3 linked regions of the Homo sapiens genome follow. The protein of the gene in region 3 purifies or fractionates together with the protein of the main gene of each other region. This does not show direct contact. Each region holds a gene or a part of one and is shown on either strand. Other genes may lie near its edges. The genes, in order: CCNB2, COA7 and CRHBP.

Region 1 (3,748 bases), on a different chromosome or scaffold from region 3:
GAGTCTCTAAATTCCATTATATCACTGTGTTTGCCTTTGTATATTCACAGCTTAGCTCCCACTTACAAGTGAAAACATACGGTTTTTGGTTTTCCACTCCTGAGTTACTTCACTTAGAATAATGGCCTCTAGCTCCATCCAGGTTGCTGCAAAAGACATTATTTTGTTCCTTTTTATTGCTGAGTAGTATTCCATGGTGTATATATACCACATTTTCTGTACCCACTCGGTCGATGGGCACTTAGGTTGGCAATTGTGAATTGTGCTGCTGTAAACATACATGTGCAAGTGTCTTCTTCATATAATGACTTCTTTTCCTTTGGGTAGATACCCAGTAGTGGAATTGCTGGACCAAATGGTAGAACTACTTTTTGTTCTTTAAGGAATCACCATACTTTTTTCCATAGAAGTTGTACATTCCTACCAGCAGTGTTTAAGCATTCCCTTTTCCCCACATCCACGCCTACACTGTTTTTTGACTATTGTTTTTTGAGGTTTTTTTTCTTTTTTAGACAGGGTTTCAATGTGTTGCCCAGGCTGGAGTACTGTGGCACAATCATGGCTCACTGCAGCCTCAGACTCATGGGATCAAGGGATCCTCCTGCCCCAACACACGGCCCCCCGCCCCCCGCCCCCCGCCCCCCTCCCAGTACCTGGGACTACAGGTGCTCACCACTACACCCGGCTAATATTTGTATTTTTGTAGAGACGGGGTTTTGCCATGTTGCCCAGGCTGGTCTTGAACACCTGGGCTCAAATGATCTGCCCAACAGGCCTCCCAAAGTGCTGGGATTACAGGTGTGAGCCACTGCGCCCGGCCTTTTTTTCTGACTTTTTAATGATGGCCATTCTTGCAGGAGTAAGGTGGTATCTCCTTGTGGTATTAACTTGCATTTCTTCGATGATCAGTGATGTTGAGCATTTTTTCATGTATTTGTTGGCCATTTGAATATCTTTTGAGAAATATCTATTCATGTCCTTTGCCCATTTTTTGATGGCATTATTTTCTTTCTTGCTGATTTGAGTTCCTTCTAGATTCTGGACACTAGGCCTTTTTCCGATGCATAGTTTGCAAATATTTTCTCTTAATCTGTGGTTGTCTATTATTTCTTTTGATGTGCAGAAGCTTTTTAGTTTAATTAGGTCCCATTTATGTATTTTTGTTTTTGTTGCATTTGCTTTTGGGGTCTTAGACATGAATTCTTTGCTTGGGCTGATTATTAGACGAACATTTATTGAGCACCAACCATATACGACAAACGATGTACTAGGTGTTGGGAATACAATGGAGAACTTACATGAATCACCAGTCACACAAATCTCTTTTATCTTTTTTTTTTTTTTTTTGCCTTACTTGAGAATTTGGGTTTTTGAGTAAACGCCATTATTCTCTCTTTTTTTAAGCACACTTTTGCATCTCAACCACCTAACACACTGCATCCCTGAGCAACCCGGAGGGGCCGGTTCCTGCACCCAGGCCAACACAACTTAAACCCCAACACACCAGAAGAGGAATAAAGGCCAACCAACTTCCGCCCACCCACTACAAACGTCGAGAGAAATTCGTAGATGAGGCCTTGTCAAAATTCAGAGGCGTCCTACGTCTGCTTTCCCAATGAGACAGTTCCTTTTTGTTTGTCTCAGAGACTGGGGTTTTTTTTTTTTTAAAAGACTGTAGGCAGAAAAAACACCCCAACCGGCTGTTGTGACAATCAAACGTGTCTAAGAAAATTCAGCCAATGAGAGTGCGAGAGTGCATCTTGTGTTGGCCAATGAGAACAGCGACCCGTGCGCAGGGCCGCCCAATGGGGCGCAAGCGACGCGGTATTTGAATCCTGGAACAAGGCTACAGCGTCGAAGATCCCCAGCGCTGCGGGCTCGGAGAGCAGTCCTAACGGCGCCTCGTACGCTAGTGTCCTCCCTTTTCAGTCCGCGTCCCTCCCTGGGCCGGGCTGGCACTCTTGCCTTCCCCGTCCCTCATGGCGCTGCTCCGACGCCCGACGGTGAGTGTGCCCGGGGACCGCTCTCAGAGGCGAGTCCGTCGGCCCCACAGCTCCCCTGTCGCTTCTCTCATCTGCTCCGAGCTTCTCCGTCCCAACCGGGGCTGCTTTTCTCTTCTCCGGAGCTCACTGCTTCGCCCGCGTCCCTGGCCCTGCGGCCGGTCCTCTCCGGCCCGCCTTTCCCCGTCTGGATTCCGCCCTCCCCTAACCCCTCCCTGCCCCGGGGTGGGAGAAGTGTAGGAAAGCGCTTCCGAGATGGCGCCTGTCAAGTGAGCCCCCAGAGCACTAGGCCTAGTACTCAGCGAGCGATCCCCGAGTGCTCTTCATTGCTAGAGAGTTATCTACTTCCACGTTCCTGGGATTTCCCTCCCCCTTTCTTACAACTCCTTGCCAACTAAGGGACCTGTGATGGCGGCTGGGAGGAGGACTGGAAGGGTTCTGTAGGCAGTAAAGTGTACGGCGTGTTTCATCAGGCAACTGCCAGGCTGTTTTTCAGATTGTTCACATTTCTTTTTGTATGAGTTTCCCATTTATTTCGGCACGCTAAGTCTTCCATGCTACGTTCACTAATAAATGGGTTTGTCCCCTTAAAAAATTAATTTCTTTACTCAAATGTAACAGAGGTTTTTGAATATAATTTGGACCAATGTGGCAGACTGAGAGAAAAGGGTCCAAATTCATTTATTTCATCCTTGCAGAGATCAAAGTGTTATGGTGTTTTGGGTATTTTTCCTGTGGGCTTGAATTGTACCGGGACCTACTTTTTTCCTTTGCCGAAAGCTAGAGGGCCCTGACACACCTGAGTTCCATCATCTTGGCTATAAGGTTAGATAAAAGCTGCCAATTTTCCTATCCAGATGAATTTAAATTGAGTCACATTACCAGGCTTCTACCCATAAGCATTACATTTTCAAACACTTTTTCAGATTGGCAGTTGCTGCTGGAAGAAATTGAAGTGTGACTTTTGAGAATCCTAATAGATTGAATACATTTAGCATTTAATTAATATCCTTTTGTGGATCTAAGTCCAACTGACAAGTAATTTTTTATAATAATGTATTCTATAACGTTATTTAATAGTCAAAACCTTTCTGTTCAGGGAAGGCTTGAGTTTCCCTGGCCCCTCTCTCTGCCTGGTAGATCCACTCAAACCCCTTGTTGGGAGTTTTATTAGAGTCGGGACCCTGAACTCTCAGGGATAGGACATGCTGGTTTTTTGCTTTTTTCTTTTTTAATGAAATGTTTATCACTTCTATAATAAACTTTTTTTGGTATGAGTTGCTTTTCCTAGCAAGTTTTATTTCCAAGCACATTATGTCTAAAGCAGGTTAAGGTCAACTGACAATTTTTATTTCATACAATTCCAACCTTCCCTGAGTTTGGGAGCTAAAACTATATTACTCAAGAAAACTACTTCCATTCTAAATGTCCTTAATATAAGAGAAAATCCATTCTATGGCAACCTCATTTTAAAAAGCTGTAGTTCTAAAAGATCATGCATACAGGAGCATTTCTTATTTGTGAAATGGCATAAGAATCAAAGCTAGTTTAGGTTTTAAACATCTGGTTTTTAAACAACCAGACCTATTATTAACTATTAATATTATAGCTTTATTATTTTTCATCTTAATTTACTTTTTACCAAGCTCTGTAAAGGAAGGTTTTTAAATATATGCCTTTAACTTGCAGGGATCTCTAACAAGTGATATGGGTACTATATGAGAAATAATCATTAAATACTAATAAGC
Region 2 (3,748 bases), on a different chromosome or scaffold from region 3:
CAGCACTTTGGGAGGCCAAGGCAGATGGATTGCTTGAGGTCAGGAGTTCGAGACCAGCCTGGCCAACATGGTGAAACCCTGTCTCTACGAAAATACAAAAATTAGCCAGGCCTGGTGGTGGGTGCCTGTAATCCCAGCTACTCGGGAGGCTGAGGCAGGAGAATTGCTTTAACCCAGGAGGCAAAGGTTGCAGTGAGCTGAGATCGAGCCATTGTACTCCAGCCTGGGTGACAGAGTGAGACTCAGTCTCAAAAAAACAAAAAAATTAAAAAGTAGGCAGTGTGCAGTGGTTCATGCCTGTAATCAAAGGCGGGAGGATCACTTGAGCCCAGGAGTTGCGACCAGCCTGGACAACGTAGTGACATACTATCTCAAAAAAGAAAGAAAATACAAAAAATAAAAATAAAGCAAGAAGAAGAAAACCACCCAAAGGTATTAGCTGCTCTGGGTGGACCCCTCTGGTCACCACCATCCACCTATACTCTTAAGTCAATTCAATGTTCACACAACACACAGGACACATTTGTGATTCAGGGCGTCTTCGCCAGCTGTTACCTATGGTAAGAACTGCATGGTTCACTCCCTTACCTTCTTCAAGGCTTTATTCAATTGCCACTTTCTCAGTGATCTTCCCTGATCACTCAATTTAAAACTGCCCTCCTGCCCTCCTGACACCCTTCACCCAGTCTTTTTTCCACGGCACTTACTACTTTCTTTTTATTTATTTTTTTTGAGACGGAGTCTCGCTCTGTCGCCCAGGCTGGAGTGCAGTGGCGCGATCTCTGCTCACTGCAAGCTCCGCCTCCCGGGTTCACACCACTCTCCTGCCTCAGCCTCCCGAGTAGCTGGGAATACAGGCGCCTGCCACCACGCCCGGCTAATTTTTTGTATTTTTAGTAGAGACAGGGTTTCACCGTGTTAGCCAGGATGGTTTCGATCTCCTGACCTCGTGATCCACCCGCCTCAGCCTCCCAAAGTGCTGGGATTATAGGCGTGAGCCACGGCTCCCGGCCGGTACTTACTACTTTCGAACACGATTTCATGAATTACCTGAGGCTTATTGCCCGACTCCCCGCACTAGCTTGGAAGCTCCACGAGGGCAGGGAGTTTCATCTGTTCACCGATGGATCCCCAGTCCCTAACCCAAAAGCCCCAGCACGTCTCTTCCTACCCGCCCCGGCCTCCTGGCTCGGTCTTCCCGGGACACATCGCCCTTCCCAACACACGCGGTCACCGCGATCCACAGACCCCGTCCCCCGCCCGCCACGTGATTCCTTCTCCAGCCTCTCAGAGGTCGCAGACCAGACCTCTCCGGGCACGTCCCTCCCCGACGCGTCGCCGGGCTGCGCTGGAGCCGCTCACCGTCCGGGTCCTTCTCGTGGTAGCAGTGGTAGTTGCACTCCACCTCCATGTTCTCCAAAAAGGACTTGACCTGCTCCTCATCCTGGAAGTCCACCATGCCGGCCATGGTTCGCGCCGGCCCAAAGACGGTCACGTGAGCCGGCGGAGGGGGCGGGGCGGGGCGTGGGGCTGACGCCGACGCCAACCGCGGCGCTCTCCCGGGATCCCGGGGCGAGCCAAGCGAGCCTGTGCTTCCCAGCAGCCATCGCGCCGTTAAGGGCGCTGGCAGCCACGCTTCCAGGGCTACCGCCTTCCTGAAACTGGGGGCTGTCTCTCTGCAGCACCTTACCTATGCTCGCTTTGTAGCCTTAGTGATTTTCCACCTGCAGTCATTTATCTATGTATAATCCCTAAGCGCCTACTGTGTGCCTCACCAGTGCATTGTTCTAGGGATATGACAGCTAGGAATATGGTCCCTGCCTTCAAAGAACTTGGAGTTCAATAGGAAGACATTCGCTTATCCATTCAGCAAGCATTTAGAGGAGCTTCTATATGTGCCAGGTGTAGCTGGACAAAGTGCAGTGAGCAGTCTGATTCATCTGTCTTCTTCCCAGACCTGTCTTGGCCACCAACATGAATTACCTAAGCAATGAATGGCTATGGGAGATGTTGACTGGCACACAGTAGCAGTGAAGGGTGTAGCAACGTCACTGTTATAACACCTAGTACTCAAACAGTGCTGAACTTTGTTCCAGGCTCTAAATGCTTTATATGAATTAACTCATTTAATTCTCATTATATATCATGTCACTGTAAAAACACTCACAGTGACACTGTGGGTAGGTATTATTATTATCCCCATTCTACAGATAAGAAAACTAAAGTACAGAGAAATTAAGTAGTTTGTCCAAGGTCACACAGTAAGTGAGGGAGTTGGTATGCAATAATAATTTTTTTTAAAAAAATAAAAGAATGAATGAGGCCGGGCGCGGTGGTTCACGCCTGTAATCCCAGCACTTTGGGAGGCCGAGGTGGGTGGATCACCTGAGGTCAAGAGTTCGAGACCAGCCTGGCCAACCTGGTGAAACTCTGTCTCTACTAACAATACAAAATTAGCAGGGGTCTCTACTAAAAATACAAAATTACAGGGAGCACACCTGTAATCCTAGCTCTTTGGGAGGCTCAGGCAGGAGAATTGCTTTAACCTGGGAGGTGGAGGTTGCAGTGAGCCGAAATTGTGCCATTGCATTCCAGCCTGGGCGACAAGAGCGAAAAAGAATGAATGAGGTAGAAAAGGAACATGTCAAGGAGATGGGGAGGAGGAGAGGAAATTTACCTACATTTTGCTTTGTTTTCCTGCTCCTGTTCCTGCTAAGAATCATCAGTTCCATAAAGCTTAGATGGAAAGTTCTCCTAAGACAGCCACTTCCTATTCGTCTTTTTTTTTTTTTTTTTTGAGACGGAGTTTCGTTCTTGTTGCCCAGGCTGAAGTGCAATAGCGCGGTCTCAGCTTACTGCAACCTCCGCCTCCCAGGTTCAAGCGATTCTCTTGCCTCAGCCTCCCGAGTAGCTGGGCTTACAGGTGCCCACCACCACGCCCGGCTAATTTTTTTTGTATTTTTAGTAGAGACAGGGTTTCACTATATTGGCCAGGCTGGTCTTGAACTCCTGACCTCAGGTGGTCCGCTGGCCTCGGCCTCCCAAAGTGCTGGGATTACAGGCGTGAGCCACCACACCCGGCTGACTTCCCATTCATCTTTGAATTCCATCCAGCCCTACTTTTGAATTCTCAATGGAGCTAAATCCATGGCTTCCCATCGCCTATAACAATGCTTTCCAAATGGCTCCATTATTAAGCTATCCCCAATGGCAGCAAAGAATGGACTATTTCCAACCACTTATTTATTGGAAGGCAGCCAATAATGTCTGAAATCCCAGTTTTATTTTTTAAATTCATAGGATTTTACATTCATTTCCCCATAATACATCTTTCATAGGATAACAGAAGATTGCCTTTTCTCCCCCAAGCCTTTGAGTAAAATTGACATTCCAGGCAATATACCACATTTACCTGTGGTTTCTTATACCCTGATCACCTTAGGGGACTCCTCAGTACACATGGCCCAGGATGGGAATCCTTGAACTTTGGTTTGAGGTCATCTTCTTTAGGATGGCCTTCAAGACCCTGTGCAATCTGATTCTAGCCTTATTTTCTGCCTCTCTTCCCCCACATCCCACCAACCTTCTGTTCTCTGAATAGATCCCAAGTTTGTGTCCCTGTTTACCTCTGCTCTTGATGCCTGGACCACCCTTTTTGACACAAATCGGAAATACTCTCCTATGTAAAGTCTTCCCAGACACAACAATTACACACATTCAAATTAGATTTAGATGCTCCCATTTTGGT
Region 3 (3,748 bases):
TTTGGAGATGTTAATCATGATTATTTTAATTGGACAGTAGAGCTCCATCAGCCATCCCATGCTGCCCTGTTATACTTATGGAGTCTGACGACTGGAATCGAGGAGGCAGTGAGCTTAGGGGTCTTGTCCTGCCCTCCCACCTATCTCAATCTAGATGCCCCCTCGGCAGCCAGTCCCCTACTGCTCCAAAATCGGGTCACCCGCGCACTGAAGACAGCCTCTGTGCTCTCGGAACGGCTCTGCCGAGCGTGGACCAGCAGGAGCGAGGCGGGCTCAGATGTGAGACGTGTGGGGCGGGCCTTCTAACCAAGACGGCCCGCTTGGTGGACCCCAGCACTCGAGCTTGTTGGGTTTTAATCATTTTTCCTCGGCCCTGGATTGCGTCAGAGTTCCGCGCTGCGAGTTCAAGTCTTTAGAAGTTCCTAGGGCCTCGAAAGCGCCCAGAAGGGAATTTAAACCATGGCAGCGTCCAGAGGCACCGGCCCCAGCCCCACTGGATGTGTGTGGGTCGAGGTCTTCGGGTAAGGGCGAGATTCTCGCCGTGTGGGGGTCCTCGAACGCGCCTCTCCGACTCGGGCACCAGCGAAGTGTCTAAGAAGTGCCACTGGCTACCTACGCTCAGCAGCCCCACGCTGGGTGCAGCGCCCCAGCCCTTTCCAACCCTCCCGTGCCGCCCTCCGGCTAGGTTGGCTGGCCGTGGGCGCCTCACCTTCAGGAAGTCGCCGCCCTGACAGTCGATGGAGACCTGGTCGTAGTGGATGGTAATGAACTCCTCGGGCTCGCTGATGAAGAAGGCTGCGCAGTGCAGCTGCGGCCGGTCGGCGGTGAAGGTGAACTGGCCCTGGAGGCTCAGCATGTCCAGGCACCCTGGGGGAGGAGGGCATGGGGCAATAAGTCCCGGGCTGCAGCCGCCGCAGCGCCGTCCTCGGGCGGCCGCTCTCCGCGCGCCCCATTCCCGGGCTCTGTAGTGCCCAGCGCCCCGACTTCCAGCCTAGGCTGCGCTGGGTTCCTGCGCCCCGGGCGCGCCACCCTCTCCCGCTCCTGGCGCGCCTCCGCGGACCGATCCTTAGCTAAGGGGACCGCGCCCCTGGCGGTTCCGGCCAGCCCCTTCCCCGAGATGTCCGCGAGCCCTCTGCCCCCCGCACAGAGTCCCACCTTCCCCGCGTCCCGGGCGCCCGCGAGCCGGGCAGCCTCGACTCACGCAGAGCGCGGCGGTACGGCTGCTCCCCAGCCAGCTCCCGCTTCAGGTTGGCGCTGAAGAGCAGGAAAGGATCGTAGTCCGCCGCTTCCCTCAGCTGGCAAGAAACATAGGTCAGTCCGGAAAAGTTCAAGGGCTGGGGATAAAAAAGGGGACCAGGAGCGGGGCACCCTCCCTGCCACTCAGCATAGCGAATAAAGAGAGAGGGGTAATGTTTTCCCGTGTCCGGAGAAGACGGGAAGGTCTTAGACCCTCTCCATCAGGCCAGGGTATCCCCAGCGGCCAGAGGAAGGCAGGCAGGCAGTCTGGGATGCTCAGAGGCAAGGAGGGAGAACAGGATAGGGGAAACCAGGGGCAAGACAGCATCCAGCAGAGAGGGAAGAAACAGCGAACCCCAAAAGGCTGCGAGCAGAGGCAGCCTGCCTGCCGCCTAGGGCTAACACGCAAGGAAGGTGAGATGGGTCAGTCCAGGGGTGGCTCACCTCTAGGTACCGGCTTTCCCCTCTTAGAGCCGTCAGGAAGATGAGAATGAAGTGACACTGAAGTTTGAAGTTGGGCGACATGCTGGCCTTGCCTCTGCAGCTGCTGTGCTCTGCTCCGGAGGTCCTGGGCTTTCCTTCCTACACCCTCGCGCAGACTGAGAGCTAGAAGCTGGTAGGGTCCCTTTGCTGGGTCTCTTTTATAGAGCAGTGGGGAGCGGAGGCTCTCTGCCCCTTAACTGATCGGAGCTCAGTAACCATGGGTTACCCTGTCTCATTGACAGAGTACGTGGCGATGACGAGGGTCCAGCTCTCAGCCACAAATTTTCAGCGTGGCCCAGCATTATTCACCAAGAATGATTTCAGTCACTACAACTTAGTGCACTAAAGTGTTGGAGAATGAGGCGGAGACAAAGAATAAGGGAGTGCATTTTGTTGACCTGCTAAATGCTACATTATACTTTTCTGTGGGCATTCAGGGAATTTTCCATTTTGCAAATCAAAGTGACAAAGTTACATACACGCATAAAATACCCAAACATATAGAGCCTATATTATGCAGCCTCATCACATAACCTTGGATGAAACCATGCTAGAAATTGTCAAAGAATTTAGTATTCATGGAATTTCTCATGTCTCTCAGTAAGAAACTTGAGGCATTTTCAGCTTTAAAGAGGTGGAACAGAAGCAGAAGTCTGATTTTGCAGAAGATTGCAGTAATGCAATTATAAGCTTTCTTCCTGCCCCTTACTCTTTGCTTTATCCTGGTCCAGTTTCTTATAGGCATTTCTTTCATGGAAAACTAACTCTGGTGTCAGGGGACTTCTGGATTTTAGCTGAGCTCTGTCACTTGACCTGGATGTTTACATGATGTACACACTCCTAGACCAGGTAGCTGTAGCCATGACCTTCGCATCCATCTGAACCACTGAGAGATGAGATTAAGTCATTCCATTTCGTGCCTTCAAATACCTGGATTACTTTAACACTCTGGTAGAAGGAACTGCCAGGAAGCTTTATTGTAACTGCTCACCAGCAAATTTGCAGGGCTAAAAAGATGACTTAGGGATCCGGAAATAAGTATAAGCTTATCTCTGCTTATCAGGAGAGAAGAGAATTTCTTCTTTGTGTCCAAAACTGTGGGAAACATGAGGATGCTCCACTATTGGCTTTCCTACCCCTTTCCAGTCTCTGCACCAAGCATTGTTATTACAATTATTACAAATAGACCATAATACAGAGTTATAAAGGAAGGAATGGCTATATTTTCAGTTTTAAAATACTCGAAATTAAACAGTAATTATCCTGGCAGTGTCAGAACTTGATTATTTTCATGTCAGGACAATTCTGAGCTCTGGAGAGGCGGCCTCTTTGTTGGTTTAATCAGGAGGCCTTCGTGCCACAGTCCAACTTTGTAAGCAGTCCTCAGACCACAGACAGTGAGAGGGAAAAGAGTACCTAAAGCTCATGGACACTGGCCACCATGTCCTTCTCATCCCAAGGGCTGTTTAGATGCCTGAATTTTGAAAAGGTTATAAAGAAACCTGGGAGGAATAAAAGAGGAGAAAAACAAACAACTTAACCCCAACTTGCTGGCCTCAAACATGCCAGGCCATCTTCAGCTCTATCTCCCACCCTTTTTGTGCCTAGAGGGAGCCTTAGGCCCACTCACCAGGCATGCCACAGGCCCTCTTCTCTTTCCCATTGATGTAGCCACAGCCCTTGGCCTGTTCCCAGAATTCAGTCCAGCACCCACCTTGGAGACCTCTGCCTTTACCTCTTAGGGGGTCTGGCACCTGATGTCACTCCAGCTCAATGTTGCTTTGTTAGCATCACCAAGGAGACATTCTTCTCCAGCCAGCCCCTTTACAAGCATATGCACATGTGCACATGTGCACACACACATGCACGCATGCACGTGCACAGACAACAGTGATGTTCCCACCCTGCTGTCATGATGCCCACTCCTCAGGAACCACACACAGCAAGAGCTGGGATGAATGAGCACTAACATAGTGACTGATTTTACAAACATCATAGCATAGCATCTGATTTTACTTAATCCACAAAT

What was found.
Region 1: the proteins of CRHBP (region 3) and CCNB2 purify together in Homo sapiens (affinity purification with mass spectrometry; 4 studies listed by BioGRID and IntAct, with this or other methods). This does not show direct contact.
Region 2: the proteins of CRHBP (region 3) and COA7 purify together in Homo sapiens (affinity purification with mass spectrometry; 4 studies listed by BioGRID and IntAct, with this or other methods). This does not show direct contact.

Annotation. Positions count from the first base shown.
Region 1 is NC_000015.10:59,103,290-59,107,037, forward strand, and holds the start of CCNB2 (G2/mitotic-specific cyclin-B2), read left to right. Parts: upstream 1-1,856; 5' UTR 1,857-1,979; coding exon 1,980-2,003; intron 2,004-3,748. UniProt on the Homo sapiens protein: Essential for the control of the cell cycle at the G2/M (mitosis) transition.
Region 2 is NC_000001.11:52,696,859-52,700,606, forward strand, and holds the start of COA7 (cytochrome c oxidase assembly factor 7), read right to left. Parts: upstream 1,490-3,748; 5' UTR 1,469-1,489; coding exon 1,363-1,468; intron 1-1,362. UniProt on the Homo sapiens protein: Required for assembly of mitochondrial respiratory chain complex I and complex IV.
Region 3 is NC_000005.10:76,951,148-76,954,895, reverse strand, and holds the start of CRHBP (corticotropin-releasing factor-binding protein), read right to left. Parts: upstream 1,852-3,748; 5' UTR 1,762-1,851; coding exon 1,681-1,761; intron 1,296-1,680; coding exon 1,202-1,295; exon of another isoform or gene 1,156-1,201; intron 868-1,155; coding exon 710-867; intron 1-709. UniProt on the Homo sapiens protein: Binds CRF and inactivates it. May prevent inappropriate pituitary-adrenal stimulation in pregnancy.